Regions from separate parts of the Homo sapiens genome. Here all the other regions are linked to region 2. The links come from fine-mapping of genetic effects on gene expression. A gene starts in region 2. Each other region holds a variant in brackets. All regions are shown on one strand. Distances are from middle to middle.

Region 1 (5,346 bases), 140 kb before region 2:
GACTCCAGCAATCCTCCTGCCTCAGCCTCCCAAGCAGCTAGGACTAAAGGCAGGTGCCACCATGCCTGGCTAGTTTGTTGTTGTTGTTGTTGTTGTTGTTGTTGTTGTTGTTGTTGTTGTTGTCATTGTAGGGATGAGTTTTTGATATGTTGCCCAGGTTGGTGTCAAAGTCCTAATCTCAAGCAACCCTCCCACCTCAGCCTCCAAAAGTGCTCGGATTATAGGTGTAAGCCACTGTGTCTGGCCTATAACTCTGACTTTAAATTAGTCCTATGTAATTATTTCATCAAGCAAACTAGAAGCACAAAGCAGTGAAATATTTTAGCTTTTAATTATAAGAAATTTCAAAAACAAAAAATGAAAGTTGACAAAAATAGTGAAATAAACCTCCATTTAACAGTCTTTTAGCTTCAACAGTTACGAATTCATGGCTCACTTTGTTTCATGGTCAGCTTCATCTACTTCCAAAACACATTTAAGTATTTTAATATATCTATAAAAGATAAGTCTCTTTAAAAATCATAACCATAATACCATTATTATATCTAAAAAAATTCAGCAAAAATGTTCATGTGAAACTTATGAAAAAGGAACTAAGAATAGTTTTATGTAGCTAATAATACACTGAATGATTTTTAAATCTCATTAAAATTTTACCACAGCTTTATAAAAACTGACCCTTTGTCAACAAGGGCTTTGGAATTCATAGCTAATCATTTTCTAACTATTTAAAACTCTATTAGCATCCAACGAGAATCTGATAATTCGATTGTTTATTTGAACTTCCCTGATTTTTGTTCATTCTATCTTGCTTAGTGCTAGGCTGGATTTGGAAAAGTCAGATTGGCTGATAAAAAGAGATTGATAAGTTATGTGTTAAAGTATTGTGAAAGAGAAAGACATTGGTCTACAACTAATGACACAGAGATCTGTCCCTATTAAAAAGACCTATGATAAGTTAAATACGACCTAACCACTTTCCTTCAATTTGCTGACCAAATTTCTTTGACTAATATTGCTTTTATTTATTGCAATTTAATATTGAGATAATCCAAATGAAACAGCTTATTCTCTGACTGTTCCATCTTTAATTAATGAAAAAGGTAATTCAAAAAGTAATCTACTAATGTAACAGCCATAGGTGTGTATAGCAGTAATGTTTAGAAAGCACTTTTTGTCACACACATACACATTTGTACAGTAGCTCACTGAGATCAACAGGCAGGTGCAATTTCTGTTTTACAAATGAAGAAAGAGAGAAGTTAAAGTAATCTTCCCAAGATTATACGTGAGCCTAGTAGGTATTTCATCAAAAAACAATTAATCATTTGGTTAAGTGTTTTAACTCTCTGAAAGTAAAGAAACCTTCTTCCGTTTTGTCAAACTGTATTTCATTTCTAAATAAGATATTTAAATTAACAGATACGGTTAAAGACTAAAAAAGAAATGTACAAGAGTATTACTGAAGGCTAAATTAAATCTACCATACAGATCACTTACCAAAAGTTGATTGTGTGGCTATATCATGTGTTATATACAAAAATAGAAAAACCAGAAATAGTATATACAATTTGAATTCTGAATCCTCTAATCATAAAGGATGAGATGAACTTAAGTCTCAGAAGGGTAACATATAAAGAACAGTGGAAGAGCTCTGAGCAGTGGCAGAGCTAGTTAGTATTTCAAAAGGCATGCTAAAATTCACAAAACCAGGGAAAAGCCAGCTATGATAAAGGCAATGTATTTAGACTTTCGAACTGTCTATGGTTCTTTTCCTACCTATGTAACTTTGCTTTCTGTGTTTTTATTCTTCAGCCTCTTCCTGAATACCTTTTCTTCTCCATGCCATTTGTTGTCCTCACACCTTTTCTCCATTTCCATCTGTCACTCTACCTCCATTTACTAGTTCTCTTTTCCTCATATTTCTTCTGAATCCTTTTGCCCATTCTCATATCCTTTCTTAACTGGCTGGTCATAATATGGAAGCATTTTAAGTATAATTCTTATATTAATTTAAAATCAGTAATATTAAACTTTTATTTATCTCAAAAGGAAATTTAAGTTTATATAACCCTATGAAATTACTGGAATGTGTGTCTAGGTTGCAATCCAGCTCCACTTCTTACTAGCTACGTGACCTTAAGGAAGTTATTATCTGAAAAGTGTGAAAATGAGATACCAACCTAAGGGGGTTCTTGTGACAATTCCTTCAGAAGACCTGCATGCCATGCGTATACTATACAATGCGCTTAACAAGGGCTACCCACTATTCAATGTACAAACACTTCCTTTCTCTATCTACATGGAGCTGACATTTTGAACACTACTGGGCACTAACTTATTTATATCATTGTACTTGATAAAATAGAAATCACTTAATGAAAATCTCCATTATGACATGTTGCACCTACTCTCCAAACCATTAGAAACAG[A/C]AATGACAACAATACATAAACTGTCCTATTCTATATTTATTCATGAGGCTGAAGTTATACATCAGGGGGAAAAAGTGCAAGTTAAACAAAACTTCCAGTTAGTAAAATATCAGTAACAAGTTTAACTGTATATAACAGGTTTACCTGTATTTTGCAATATATTTAAAATTATAGGTAATTTTTGAAAGTATCCAAATAACTGTTTGATACTTGAATATGGCAGCATATTCTACTGTTGTTAAAGTCTCTGGAAAGCAGAACAATGTGTATATACTCAAAATTAGGCTTTGTAATGGTCTTAAAGATATAAAATCTTGAGTAATAAGCAAAATAGTGAAGTTTCTTATTTGTAAAGGAAATATATCAGGAAGGTTTCCACTAAGGTATTTAACTCATATAGATATGAATAGACTTGATTTAAATGTATAATATTCCATAACAACAAAGAACATACCCATCCCTGGAAGTCTGATGTATAATATGCAAAAAGAAAATGCACAGAAGCAAGAGCACGACCTTCAAAAAGTCACCTGTGTTTGTGAAAATATTTCAGACTAGACTTTAATATTTTAACAGGAGAAAATGCTTCCCAAGATGAATAAAATCTAACCAAGGTATAAAGCCCTAATAATCTGTATTTTAATCATAAATGGAAGACAATAATTACTTGTTAAAAAAAAACAAACACCCTGATGTATGAATATAGAACATTTCTTACATATTCATGTTAACATTCCTTAAACAAGAAAACCGATCATCAAAAAACAAAATCTAAAATTAGGTTATACATTTTTCATCATGTCAGACAAATAAATTCACAGCTCACTAAATGTTCTTTCTTACACTTCAAACAGCTTATAAAATCCCACCTCCTTTAAATAAGGTTCTCCAATAATGGGAAGTAAGATGGAGAATCCACCATCCATCGTAACTCAGTCCCCTTGGCATAAACACTTAAACTCTACAAAGAAAACCATGCTAGTAACAGGAAAGCACAGAAGACATTTTCTTTGTCACTTTTGGCAGAGAGGAAAAAAAGAAGTCTTTTATACAAATCTGTTTAACTTTTTTAAATTAGAAGGTCAGAAAGGGCAGAGCTCACATTGTACAACATCAAGACATATACTCATCTCTCCAACTGGAGGGGTCAAAGGAAGTTTTGGGGTATTTTCATGATAACTCTTCTACCCAAGTCCAAGTTAACATATGTAAGTAGCACAGGGCCTGACTGACAGTAAGTACTCAATAAATATTTATTGAATACATGAATGAGTTAAATCAATCCAGTGCTTTGATTTGGACCTCAGTGCCTCACAATGTCTGTCTCTCCCACACAGTTTCTTCAGTTTCTGGCCCTTTTCCTCTAACTACAGGAATTAAAATCAAGTACAAGAGGTTGGACAAGGAAGAGGTGCCATATACCTAGAGTCCTTCTTTACTCTCCCAGCACAAATCTCTCCCCCCTCCTCATAATTTCAAAAGATACACATTAGAAACTGTCAAGCACTAGAGGCTGGGCATGGTGACTCACACCTGTTATCCCAACACTTTGGGAGGCCAAGGTGGGAGGATCACTTGAGCCTTGGAGTTCAAGACCAGCCTGGGCAAAATAGTGAAACCCTGTCTCAAAAGTAAATAAGTAAATAAGCAGGCAAGCAAGCAAGCTGGGCACGGTTGTGCACACCTGTAGTTCCAGGTGCTTGGGAGTCTGAGGTGGAAGGATCACTTGAGCCCAGGAGGTTGAGGTTGCAGTAAGCCATGATCATGCCACTGCACTCCACCCTAGCTGACCCTGTCTCAAAAAAATAAAAAAAGGGCAGACAACAGTTTCTACAACTTCAGATGGTTAAGACTTGCATCCAGAGTCAAAAGGACTGGATTTGAATCAATCATTTCACAACCCAACAGTCACATACTTAACCTCTGCTAACTCTAATAATCTCGTAAACAGAATTGCCATAGGGCATCTCCCATTGAGTTGTAAGGATTAACAAGGATAATGCAAGTAAAGAATTCACATAATATAAACTTGGTAAAATTGCTTTAAATCAGTTAATTTGGCAAAAGATAGAAAAGATTATATGTTAATCTGGAGGAAATACCTAAATTTTCAGAATTTCATTTAAGAAACAAAATCATCAAGAAAAGCATATATTTGCTCAATGATGTATTTGGATTAGTTTTGTTGAGGAGACTCAGTCTCTTGAAATATTAGGTAATTTGTACTTACCTAATATTGTGGAATTCACTATATTCAGAGTATACATGAGTGAAATGAGGGCCTGACTGGGAGTAAATATTAAATGTAATTCAATTCACAAATGTTCACCACCAACTACATAGTAATGCACACTTTCAAAAAAATAAAGGCCCTGTCTAGTATATCTGTGTTTGCAATGGTAGTGATGGTGGGATAATGTGCACAAGTATCCACAATAACATGAGATAAATGCTAAAACGATTATGTAAAAATTGCCCTGGCTTCGAAGAAGAGAAAGCAATTGGTTTTATGTATTTGGATTCCCATTTGGTTCTACATAAAACGAAGATAGAGGATACAAAAGGAGAGCCTTTCCAAAGATAATTCCAGAGATGGAAATGAGGTAGGGACCATTGTAAAGAAAAAAAAAATAGGGACAAGGGCCCAGAGATGTGAATGTACAAAGTATATGAGAGAATAAAAAAGTGCAGGTATCAAATTCTGGCTTTGCCCTAGACAGCACTATTAACAGTTGGTCACATTATTTAACCTTCTGTATCTCAGTTTTATTATCTGTAAAATGGAAATTAGATTATTAGGCTAAGGCTTTCTCATAAATAAGGTCATTCTCCTAAAAATGTAAGGTATCATTGTTAAGACATAACTTTTTTCAGATTCCTTTTAACCTCAGGTTTTAATATTTTAAATATAAAT
Region 2 (5,000 bases):
CCCACAGCACGGAGAAATCAGTTTCTTCCTGTATAAAATAAAGATATTAACAGTATTTATCTCGAAGCGTTAACTAGATAAATGGGATATTATATATATAAAGTCTGGCGCAGTGCCTGATTATGGTAAATGCTCAGTAAGTTAACCGTTTGACATTAACTACCAGCCATCAAACATGAAAGTAATGTTTAAAGACTTTCAAACACCAACATGCAAAGCCTTTACCCACTAAGTATAAATTCCTCGATTAAAAAATTTTTTTTTCCACAGAATACCTGCGAAGTTTCTAAACCACTGGGTTGGGATTCTAATAATAGCTGAACCCTGAATGGTGGGTTATAGAGTCAAGCTATTAAAAGACATTCAGTAGACTCCAAGTGCTCCTACTTCAAAAAATAGGCCATAGGCAGAGGCCCCACTGGCTTCCCAGTCTCCCCTTGGGACGTCCCTAGGCTGCCAGGGAACCCCCCTCCTCCGCGCTTAGGGGGAGGAGAGAGAAAGCCTCGGAGGCGGGGGCCGGGGGTGGGGGAAAGCGAGCATCCCTGCGCCTCTCGCCCAGACCCACCTTGAGCAGGATGGACGGCGGCAGCTGGTTGATGTCTGGGGTTTCGGGGGGCGGCTCCCTGTGACAGTCGCAGGGGTTTTCGGGGGACTCCCGACAGTCCGCGTCGCCACATTCATGCTGCTGCTGGGCGGACAAGGGGGCGGTGCCCCCGGCTCGGACAGCGTCCCCGCCAGCTTCGGTGGGGGCACCTTCGGAGGTGGGAGAAGAGGGCGGAGGGCAGAGCGGCTGCGGGGGCTGCTCCGGGGCCTGGCAGCAGCCGGCGTCGGGGGGCCGGGGCGGCGAAGCGCCTCCCCCCGCAGGCCCTCCCCCGCCACCGCCGCCGCCGCCGCCGCCGCAGCCCCCGCCGCCGCAGCGGGGCTGCTTGCAGGGGGTGCAGGCGGGGACCCCGGCCCCCTTCCGCTTGCACACCATTTCGGGGGGCGTAGGGAGCTCGGCCGGTGACGGTGTCGGCCCCCGGAAGAGCTGCACGGCGGCGGGCGGCCCCAGGAAGCGCACCGGCCCCAAGCTGGCCAGGAAGAGACTTCGGCCCTGCTGCTCCCAGGCGGCGGCCGCAGCCAGCCCCAACTCTTTGCAGCAGGAGGCGGGCGACGAAGCCGAGGCGGCAGCGGCGGCGGCGGCGGCGGCCGAGGATAGCAGGAAGCGGCGGGCAGCAGCGGCGCAGTCCTCGGCGGCCAGGGCCGCGTAGCGCCGCGCCAGGTGCTGAGAGGAGGAGGCGGCAGCGTAGGCCCCGTCCCGCGGCGGCGGCGAGAGCGGCGGCTCCTCCTCTGGGCCGGCGGGGGCGGGCGCGCCGGGACTGTGCACGATGAAGCAGAGCATGCAGGGCCCGCGGAAGAAGCAGTCCCGGCTCCGGGGCGCCGCCGGCTGAGGGGGCACCTTGGCTGGGGTCCGGCGGGGCAGCCTGAGGAGAGGGCGCCGGCGGCGGCACCAACTGCAACAGCGAGGCCTCTTCTGGCTCGGGCGGTTACGCGGCTCCTTCGAGAGAAGGTGGCCCATATAGAAGGCCCCGAGGAGGGGGACCGGGACGGGAGGGAGGGAGACCCAGAGAGGCGGGCTCCCGGCAGCGGGGCAGGCCGCTCGCTGGCTCGGCCCCCGGAGGGGTCGCCCTTCCTGCGCACACACACGCACACACGGGCACACACGCGACGGTGGGGGGTGGGCGTCAGCTGCGGGCCGCCGGAGTGCCCGACGGGGGCTACATGCTTTGCCCAGGGAAGCCGGGAGAACGATGGGCGCGAGCTTTGGGGACGCGAGGGAGGGAGCGAGCGAGCCTGCCGGCTAGGCGACCAGTCCGGGCCCGGCCAGCCGGCTCAGTCAGTCAGCGGAGCGGCCGGGGAAAGGCCGGGTCCCGCTCGGACCATTTTAACTGCGGATCCGCCGCCGGCGCGCGCACCCGCGACTCTGCTCGGAGCCGCAGGAGCGCGCGGCCCGTTCCGGCAGGGGGCGGAGCCAGTTGCGGTGGCGCGCTCGTGGCGGGGACGCCGGCACCCGGCTGCTCACCCGGGACGGCCGTCACACCGGCACTACGGGAAGAAGCCGGCCGGCTAGGGCACGGAGCTCTGGGCTTGCGGGGTGCGGCGCACGCCCCTCCCTCCCACCGCCTAAGGTTTTTCCGAAGCTGCTGGGCGTGCGCCGCGTTTCTGAGGCGGGAGGAGACACTTCCGAGCCAGCTGTGTGACATCCGTTTACACAGCCGCGCTGACGTCTCGAGGTGTAAGTTCAAGAGCTGCCATTGGCCGGGAGCCGCTGGGCTCTTCCCCTCACCTTCCACCCCTGTCACCACCCCTGACTCGGAAACCGAGGCCACTTCGAAGCCGCGAGGCGGGTTCCGCCGGAAGGGCCAGTGTGGGCGCTGACCGCGCTTCGGGCAGAGTGGCAGATGCGGCCCCTGGGTGATGCGCACCGAAGTCATGTGAGGGGTTGATTGGTTGTGCGGCACCACTGTTTACCCACTTGTGTTTTCTTAATTGTTGCGTACTACTGCCTTTCCACAACTTTATTTCAGAATGAAAGCATATATCAAATTACCTGTGCACAGCAGAAAGATAACAGCTTCCCCACCCAGTGAGCCATTCAACACCCAGGCTACAAACTGTAGATCACTTTATTGTCTACACCCTCGGAATCCTGTCTAGCCGTCTGTTGTATATTTTAAACATGACGGTGCAGTGCCTGCTATATGACAAACGTTGGTGATCCAGATGAGAAAGAGGAAACAGCTATGCAGGCAGTCCTTTAGAAGGTTTGACTATATCGAGGCTAAAGAGCTAGGGCAGCTGCTAGAGCGGTACCTGGTGCGGAGAGGTTAGCTTTCACAAGCGAAAAATTAGAGGAGGCAAATACCATGGGAATGAGCCACTCTAGTGAGAGAAATAAGAGGAGAAGGTGGAATGGAGAGTGCTTTAGGAAGGATACTTTCTTCATTGTGATTACAGAGAATGAGGAAAGGTAGATAAAGGACGGATACAGAGAGGTGGATGTTTCTAGCAGGAAGGTGAAAGAGTTCCTTTCTGTTGGTTTCTGTTTTGCTTCAGATAGAGCTTGGTTACCTGCTGAAGGGTGGAAGAGAAGTGGCAGGTGTTTAAAAAAAAATCTGCTAAGGATAACTTGAGAGAGCTGACTGAGGAAGAAGTATTGCAATATTCAAGGCCCAGTGGCTTGGAGAAGACCACTGTTGGAACCTACATTGCTATTCCCACTATAGTGGCCAGCCCCACCCAGCCTGCTCTCAAACATGCTGTCAAACAATTGTTAATTCTGGCCTTTTTGTCAGAAATGACCAATCTTAAGTCTGTCACATTCAGGGATCCTTTCAGAGCCTAATGACAGTTATGTGGAATTCTAGAAGCAAATATTTGTCAAAAGATTTCACAGACATACACGCTATTCACTATCAAATGCATTGCCTGAACGACATTTACGTACACATATAATCCACATAACTTTCATCCATTTGCCTGTAGGAGAATCTTCCAGGGCCCCAGAGCAGTGCTTGAGGACTTATTACAGATCCTTTGACATCTCTACTAGGCTGCACTTTCACAAAAGGCAAGAGTATTATAAAGTGTTTTGTAACTTTATGTCAAAAATATGAACCTGTCAGAGCCAGATGTGGTGGTACCTATCATTCAAACTACAACAGGGCTGGTGAGGCGTGAGGATCGCTTAAGCCCAGCTTGTTATGATTATGCATGTGAATAGCCACCGTAGTCCATCTTGAGCAGCGTAGCGAAACACAGTCTCTTAAAAAAAATTGCGACCTATACATTTCATATAAGTTAAATACACATCTTCCCTATGAGCCAGCAATCCCACATCTAGGTATTTATCCAGAGAAATAAAAGCATATATCGATAAAAAGACATGTACAAAAATGTCCGTAACAACTTTATTCATGGTCACCAAAAACTATAAACTGCCCAGATGTCCATCAGTGGGAGAACGGATTAATAAACTGATATATTCATCTAATTAAATACTACTCAGCAACACAAGAGAAAAAGCATGGATGAATCTCAAAAAGTTAGGATGTTTTATGCTTTCTGGATACGGGGCCCTCGAATCGCTACCTGGTAACAGGCTCCCTATGTGATTCCTGTACAGACAGCCTGGCACCATGCAAATGTATCAGAACTACACATACCATCCAACTTCAACTTCTTGTTTTTAGAGATGAAGCAACTGACTCTGAGAGTTCTGAAGTCGTTGCTAAAATTTACAATATTTGTTTCCTTACTCCCAGTTCCTAAACCATTCAACCACAAGCAAATTGTCTTTGGTCTACCTATTGGACTCTGTGCTGACAAAAGATACTTGTTTTTTTATAATTTAGATATTTTGCATGTCTGTTCTCATCACCCACCATCATCACACCACTAGTTCTCCCCAGAAAAAATTTCAGATTCTTTGAGGCTTAGGATTATCTCTAACCCTTCTTTTTATTTCTTTACCACAGCAAATAGCAGAGAGAGTCTTGTATAGTTCATCAGTGATTAAATAAGCTACTACTATTATCAGGAGAGCTGTAATGAGTTTTGGAACTCAGTACCCTAAATAATAATACTAATGTTGTAAATGTTAAAGATACAGAATTATGAATAAGAGTCATAAATTAGAATTATAGAGACAGTTGTAGCAGCTGATGGCTTTGCTAGTTGGGGGGCAGAGAGGGTGGAGTTGCAGTGGAAACCAACTCCGGACAGCCAGGAGCTGGACTGGCACTATTAGCTAGGCATTTGTGGTACTGGCAGCTGTCCTGGCATTCTCAGTTCTCATTGTTTTGTCAAATATAAACAGTCCCACAAAACATCAACATCAGTTATAGTCATTTTATGACTACAATAGGCAAGACAAAAATAAGACCCCTCCACAATCATGTCTGAACACAGCAAATACAAGAACAGTCTCTAAACCACAAAAATGACCAAACATTCTGGTT
Region 3 (5,346 bases), 190 kb before region 2:
TTTATAAATTACCCAGTCTAAGGTAGTTCTTTATGGTAATGCTAGAATGGGCTAATATAGGCGCAGTGGTGTATGCCTGTAGTCCCAGCTGCTTGGGAGGCTGAGGCAGAAGTATTGCTTGAGCCCAGGAATTGTACCTAGGAAACACTGTGAGACTCCATCTCTGAAAAAAAAATGTCACCTTTAAGAAAGGGTTTAAATGTTAATGTTTCAGATGGTTTCTCCAAATCATTAAAATCAACCACAAATGTTGCAAAAATGTTAAAGTGACAAATAATATATCATTACAAACTTACAAGCATGGCAAAAAGCAGGTATGTCTTAGATGGATAACAAAGAAAAAATTCAACAGCCTACTATTGTTACAATTGTTGAGGCAAATATTTGTATTAAAGCACCTAAAAACTTTGCTGCACTTATAAGCAACAGATGCATTAAAAGTATAGATCTAGATGGTTTTCAAAACTTAAACATAACAATTTGAAAAGGCACAGCTGTATTCAATTTTAGTTATAGACATGCCTTGTTATAATAATTAATATTTCCTAAATGTTTTCCTCTAGAAAAGTATTTTTAACATGTTACAATGGTTACCTGTCATTTATGATCCAGTTCAGACAGAGATTGAGAGAGCTAAGATTTTTGCACCTCTTGACAATTTCCATCACGGTTTCATTATCCAGTTCAGTGATATGACGTAGGTCCAAGCTGGAAAGGTTTCTTAGCTAATGAGATAAATAAAATGAAAGATGAAAAAGGTAAATGCTACATTCACTCTCAAAACTTACAAATGTAGTTTATTACAAGGTAGAGTATCACTGTAAAATATTTAAAACAGATAGGCTAGAATCTTTTAATTAAAGATATTGTATATGTAATATTTTATACACTAAATTAAGCATGAGTGTAGTATAGAAATCTATGGTGAATATCTGAATGGCAACAAACATTAAAAGAAAGTAGATTTGGCCAGGCGCGGTGGCTCACATCTGTAATCCCAGCACTTTGGGAAGCTGAGGCGGGTGGATCACGAGGTAAGGAGATCAAGACCATCTTGGCCAACATGGTGAAACCCCATCTCTACTAAAATACAAAAAATTAGCTGGGCGTAGTGGTGCATCCCTGTAATCCCAGCTACTTGGGAGGCTGAGGCAGGGGAATTCTTGAACCCGGGAGGCAGAGGTTGCAGTGAGCCCAGATCGCATCACTGCACTCCAGCCTGGCAACAGAGTGAGACTGCGTATCAAAAAAAGAAAAAAAAAAAAAAGAAAGTAGATTTTACTTAAGTATCCTAAAAATCAAGTTAGCAATCTATTGTCTAATAGGTAGGCAAGGTATTGAATATATTACATTAAGTACCTACAATTTGAGAAGATTATTCTAACATTGTTCAATTTCAGATATTACCTTCATAATTATGCCATTTCTGTATAGATTTTTTTATTTTTTTAAAGATGAAATATGACTAAATGGTTAATTCAGAGATAGCTTGGTGATATATTATCAATGTACTCCAAACTGTACTATTATGGGTATGTGTTTCATCATAAAATGATATAAAATGTGGCTTAAGAAGCAAAAATTTCTCCAGGTTCCACCTTCTCCATGTTTTCATTTTCTATTTCTTTAAGTTTCTTGTCTTCCGCTGATGTTTAGCCTCTAAAGCAAATTAATGATAATATTTACATAAAGGTGGTAGGATCTTAATTATCCTCTTCAAATAAGCTACCTTTTCAAATATTAAGCTATTTTTGCTTAATAATATGCAAAACTTAATCTGGAGGCATATGATAGACCAAATAACACAAATACCCCTCCCACCAAAGATACCTATGCTCTAATATGTTACCTTATAAGGCAAAGGGGATTTTGCAGATGTGATTAAAGGTATGGATCTCAAGATGGGGAGATTATCCCAGGTTATCTGAGTAGTCCCAGTGTAATCACTGGAGACCCTTATAAGCACAGGCTTACTCAGAGAAAGCCAGAGAGATGAAATGGAAGATAACAGGAGATGTTTCAATCATGAAAGGGATTCAAGCTACCTTTACTAGCTTCAAATATTGAGGAAGGGGCCAGGAGTCAAGGAACATGGGCAGCTTTAGAGTTGGAAACAGCCCTCAGCTGCCAGCCGGGAAGAGATAAGGACCTCAGACTTACAACCTTAAGGAATTTAATTCTGCCAAAAAACCTGTAGGAGTGAGCAAGAAAACAGATGCTCCCTTCAGAAACACAATCCAGCTGACACCTTGAATTTAGCCTGGTGAGACCTGTGTCAGACAGGCTTCTAACTTACAGAATAGTGAAATAATAAACTGGTACTGTTTTAAGTTGCTAAGCATGTGAGAATTTAAGTCAGTTCAGCTTAAACTCCAAGAGAAGACTAGACACTTGAATCTCCAATGAAAATGTTCTATATTTCTGCTGTCTGATATAGTAATCACTAATCACTTGTACCTACTGAGCACCTAAAATGTGACCAGTGTGACAGGGGACCTGAACTTTTAATTTTATTTAATTTTAATTAATTTGTATTTAATTTTTATATCTGCATGTGGCTAACAGCTACAGTGTTGGTGGACAGGACAGCTCAAAAGAATGGTCATTGGGAGGGTAGGAGGTAAATTGCCAGGCAGTACTCACACTCTTTCCACCTCAGCTCCCAATGGGAGAAGCTATACAGAGAGAGTTCATAGAGTCACTACTCAATGCTCTCTGAAGCATGCTGCCCAACTATGGAGATAAATAGAGATAGCTGCGACAGATAAAACACAAAAAGGTCCACAACAGCAGGTAAATTCTTTCTAACTGAGACAGAAAGTGTATGTACCAGCTTCTTCTAAGGGCTAGGTTGTAGGCATTAGTAAAGGCAGAGCTTCAGGAAAAGCTCTCTGCAATTGGCTTATCAGGTAAGATGTTCAAGGAAGTCACGTCCAGTCTAGTATGGGACTCAGCAAAATGATGCTC[C/T]AGAACAGAGGCAGGTCAAGCAAAGAAATGGGTTCTTACAAAGTTCCTATTCAATAACCACAGGTTAAGGGTTTTAGCAACATCAGAACATAACTGGTACTTGGCAACCAAAGCACACAGGAACGGACTCATTCTTGTTAAAACAGACCTTTCTGGCTGTCTCAGCAGCTTCAGGCAACTGACCAGTCAGAACCTTGGTCAACTCCCTCAGTTTCCCCTTCCTCAAGGTTCACCTTACTGAAATAATTATAATCAATACTAAGCCCAGGGCTCAAAGGTGAGCTGTTTGGGCTCTAAAGTTCTGCTGCAAACATAGCGCCTGTTTCCTATATCTTACCTCTCATTGTAGCTTTTTTTTTAAGTATCTAAAGGTACATAAAAAAGACAGACAAATAAAATACAAAATAAATAGCAAATAAGTTTCTATAACTTTTCTGACCTCACTAGAATTCACCTAAGGGAACAAAGGGCTGATATGAACGCTCTTTGCTGTGCTTTCTTCCTTTCCAATATGTGATCTGCATGTGGTGGGCACAGAAATTGAAATCACCCACAGTCATGGCTGGGCTTGGAGCAAAATGGAAGGCCAACATCTTTTATGAACAGGAGACACCAGAAGGATAGATGGCTATGTACATTTATCAACTCACTAGTTCTGTGGGTCAGGAGACCAGACATGGCTTAGCTGTGTCCTCTGCCTAGGGTTTCGCAAGGCAATCAAGATCTCAACTGGGGCTGTATTTCTTTCTAGAGCTGAAGTTCTCTTACAAGCTCATGTAGTTGCTGGAAGAATTCATAGGATGGGATGGGATGGGATGGGATGGGATGGGATGGGATGGGATGGGATGGGATGGGATGGCAATAAAATGAAAGAGACAATGGTAAGAAAAAAAGCACAAGTCTCAGACTCAGTGTTTTTTTGTTGTTATTTTTCATGAGAGGACGGAAAATAATAGTCTGAAAGCAGCTATGCAGAGCAAAGAGGATCTTTGCCCCCACCTCCTGACCCTGAGAGAAACACAGTGAGAAAATAAACAGGTATGGTAGGCAAAATTCTAAGATGATCCCAATGGCCTATGCTCTATCATAATCCCTGCCCCCTTGAGTGTGGACAGGACCCACGATTAGGATGGAAATTCTCCTTACACAGCAAAGAGATTTAGCAGCTATAATTATGGTTCCTGATTAGTTGACACTGAATGAATCAAAAGGGAAAGTATCCTAGGTGGGCCTGACATAATCAGTTAAGCCCTTACAAAGGATCTAGAGGTCTGAGAAATTATCCTGCTTGGTCCTGAAGAACTAAGCAACTGTGCTGTGAAAAAGACTATGAGAGCCTTCTGGGGATTGGCCACTGGCTGAGGGCCAGCAAGAAAATAAGGGTGTTAGTTCTACAACCACGAGGAACTGAATTCTTCAAGCCACTACATGAGCTTGTAAGAAGACTTGAGCTTTAGAAAGAAATACAGCCCCAGTTGAGATCTTGATTGCCTTGTGAAACCCCAGGCAGAGGACACAGCTAAGCTATGTCTGTCTGGTCTTCTGACCCACAGAACTAGTGAGATGATAAATGTACATTGTTTTAAGCTGCTAAACTTGTAGTAATTTGTTGTGTATCAGTAGAAAACAAATGCAGGAGGGCTGCGGTGACGTTGTATTGCTGAAGAAAAGCCAGGCTTCACTCAAGACAAGGGGAATATCCTTGCCCACTTTAAATGCTGAAGCTCTCTGTCCCTCTTCAGATACTTATGCTCACAAAAGCACAGAGTGAGAGGCTTAGTCCATTCAGTCTTCTCCTCTAGGCTTGTCTTCAGCTTCCAAGAAAATACTTCCTAGAAAACAGTCAGTTTTGATGTGGCCACTCTTGTCAGAAGAAAGAGAAATAGAGAGAGACAGAGAGTCTGAGACAGAGACAGACAGAGATATCTAGAAAGTGGGGAGGTCTTCCTAAATTTCTTAAACCAACCCTTACTCATGGGAAGATGGGTTTAATGGAAACACTTTATGAAAATACTTGCACAGCTTCTGGCTTTTACTCAATTCATACTTGTCAATAGTCACATGCTTCCATATATATCTTAACACAGGTTAACTGTCTTTTTATGTTCCCTAAAGTTTTATTTTTCACAAGATTTTGCATTAGGGCTAGATAGGTGGATAAAATGGTTTCACTGGTCAAGTTCTCTTGTTTTTGATTGAGCAAAGATGAATTTGTATGTGTCAAGGATCTGAGTCACTCTTAAATTTGATAATCCTCATATTACTGTCCCCCACACTTCTATTTTCTACCTAAAAATCACCATTTTTTTAAACCACATTGTCTTTACAGCTAGCTTTCTTTATAGGGCGTTTTTGATCTCCACACCCAAAAAGTTTTTA

Direction of the effects. Positions count from the first base shown, and alleles are read on the strand shown. Sizes are in standard deviations (SD) of each study's normalised expression. Not every link is listed here.
For the expression in anterior cingulate cortex of the gene that starts at base 1,965 in region 2, allele T in region 3 goes with a lower level than allele C (small effect, 0.30 SD a copy in GTEx).

Evidence for each region. PIP is the estimated chance that this variant, and not a neighbour inherited with it, causes the effect.
Region 1: its variant is the best candidate, but not a certain one, in a credible set for the expression of FBXL17 in whole blood (INTERVAL, PIP 0.80).
Region 3: its variant is the best candidate, but not a certain one, in a credible set for the expression of FBXL17 in anterior cingulate cortex (GTEx, PIP 0.55).

The regions. Positions count from the first base shown.
Region 1 is chr5:108,242,276-108,247,621 of GRCh38, forward strand. All of the region lies in intron 4 of FBXL17 (F-box and leucine rich repeat protein 17), which reads right to left. Among named protein-coding and RNA genes, the nearest start is that of FBXL17, 140 kb to the right of the region's middle. The variant A/C (reference allele first, on the strand shown) is at 2,433.
Region 2 is chr5:108,380,134-108,385,133 of GRCh38, forward strand. It overlaps FBXL17 (F-box and leucine rich repeat protein 17), which reads right to left and starts at 1,965. Exons shown (of 9, transcript NM_001163315.3): 1 at 566-1,965. The coding sequence starts at 1,558. RefSeq lists silencers at 816-895, 916-1,665, 1,866-2,115 and an enhancer at 2,216-2,335.
Region 3 is chr5:108,185,523-108,190,868 of GRCh38, forward strand. FBXL17 (F-box and leucine rich repeat protein 17) reads right to left here. Exons shown (of 9, transcript NM_001163315.3): 6 at 595-725. Among named protein-coding and RNA genes, the nearest start is that of FBXL17, 190 kb to the right of the region's middle. The variant C/T (reference allele first, on the strand shown) is at 2,968.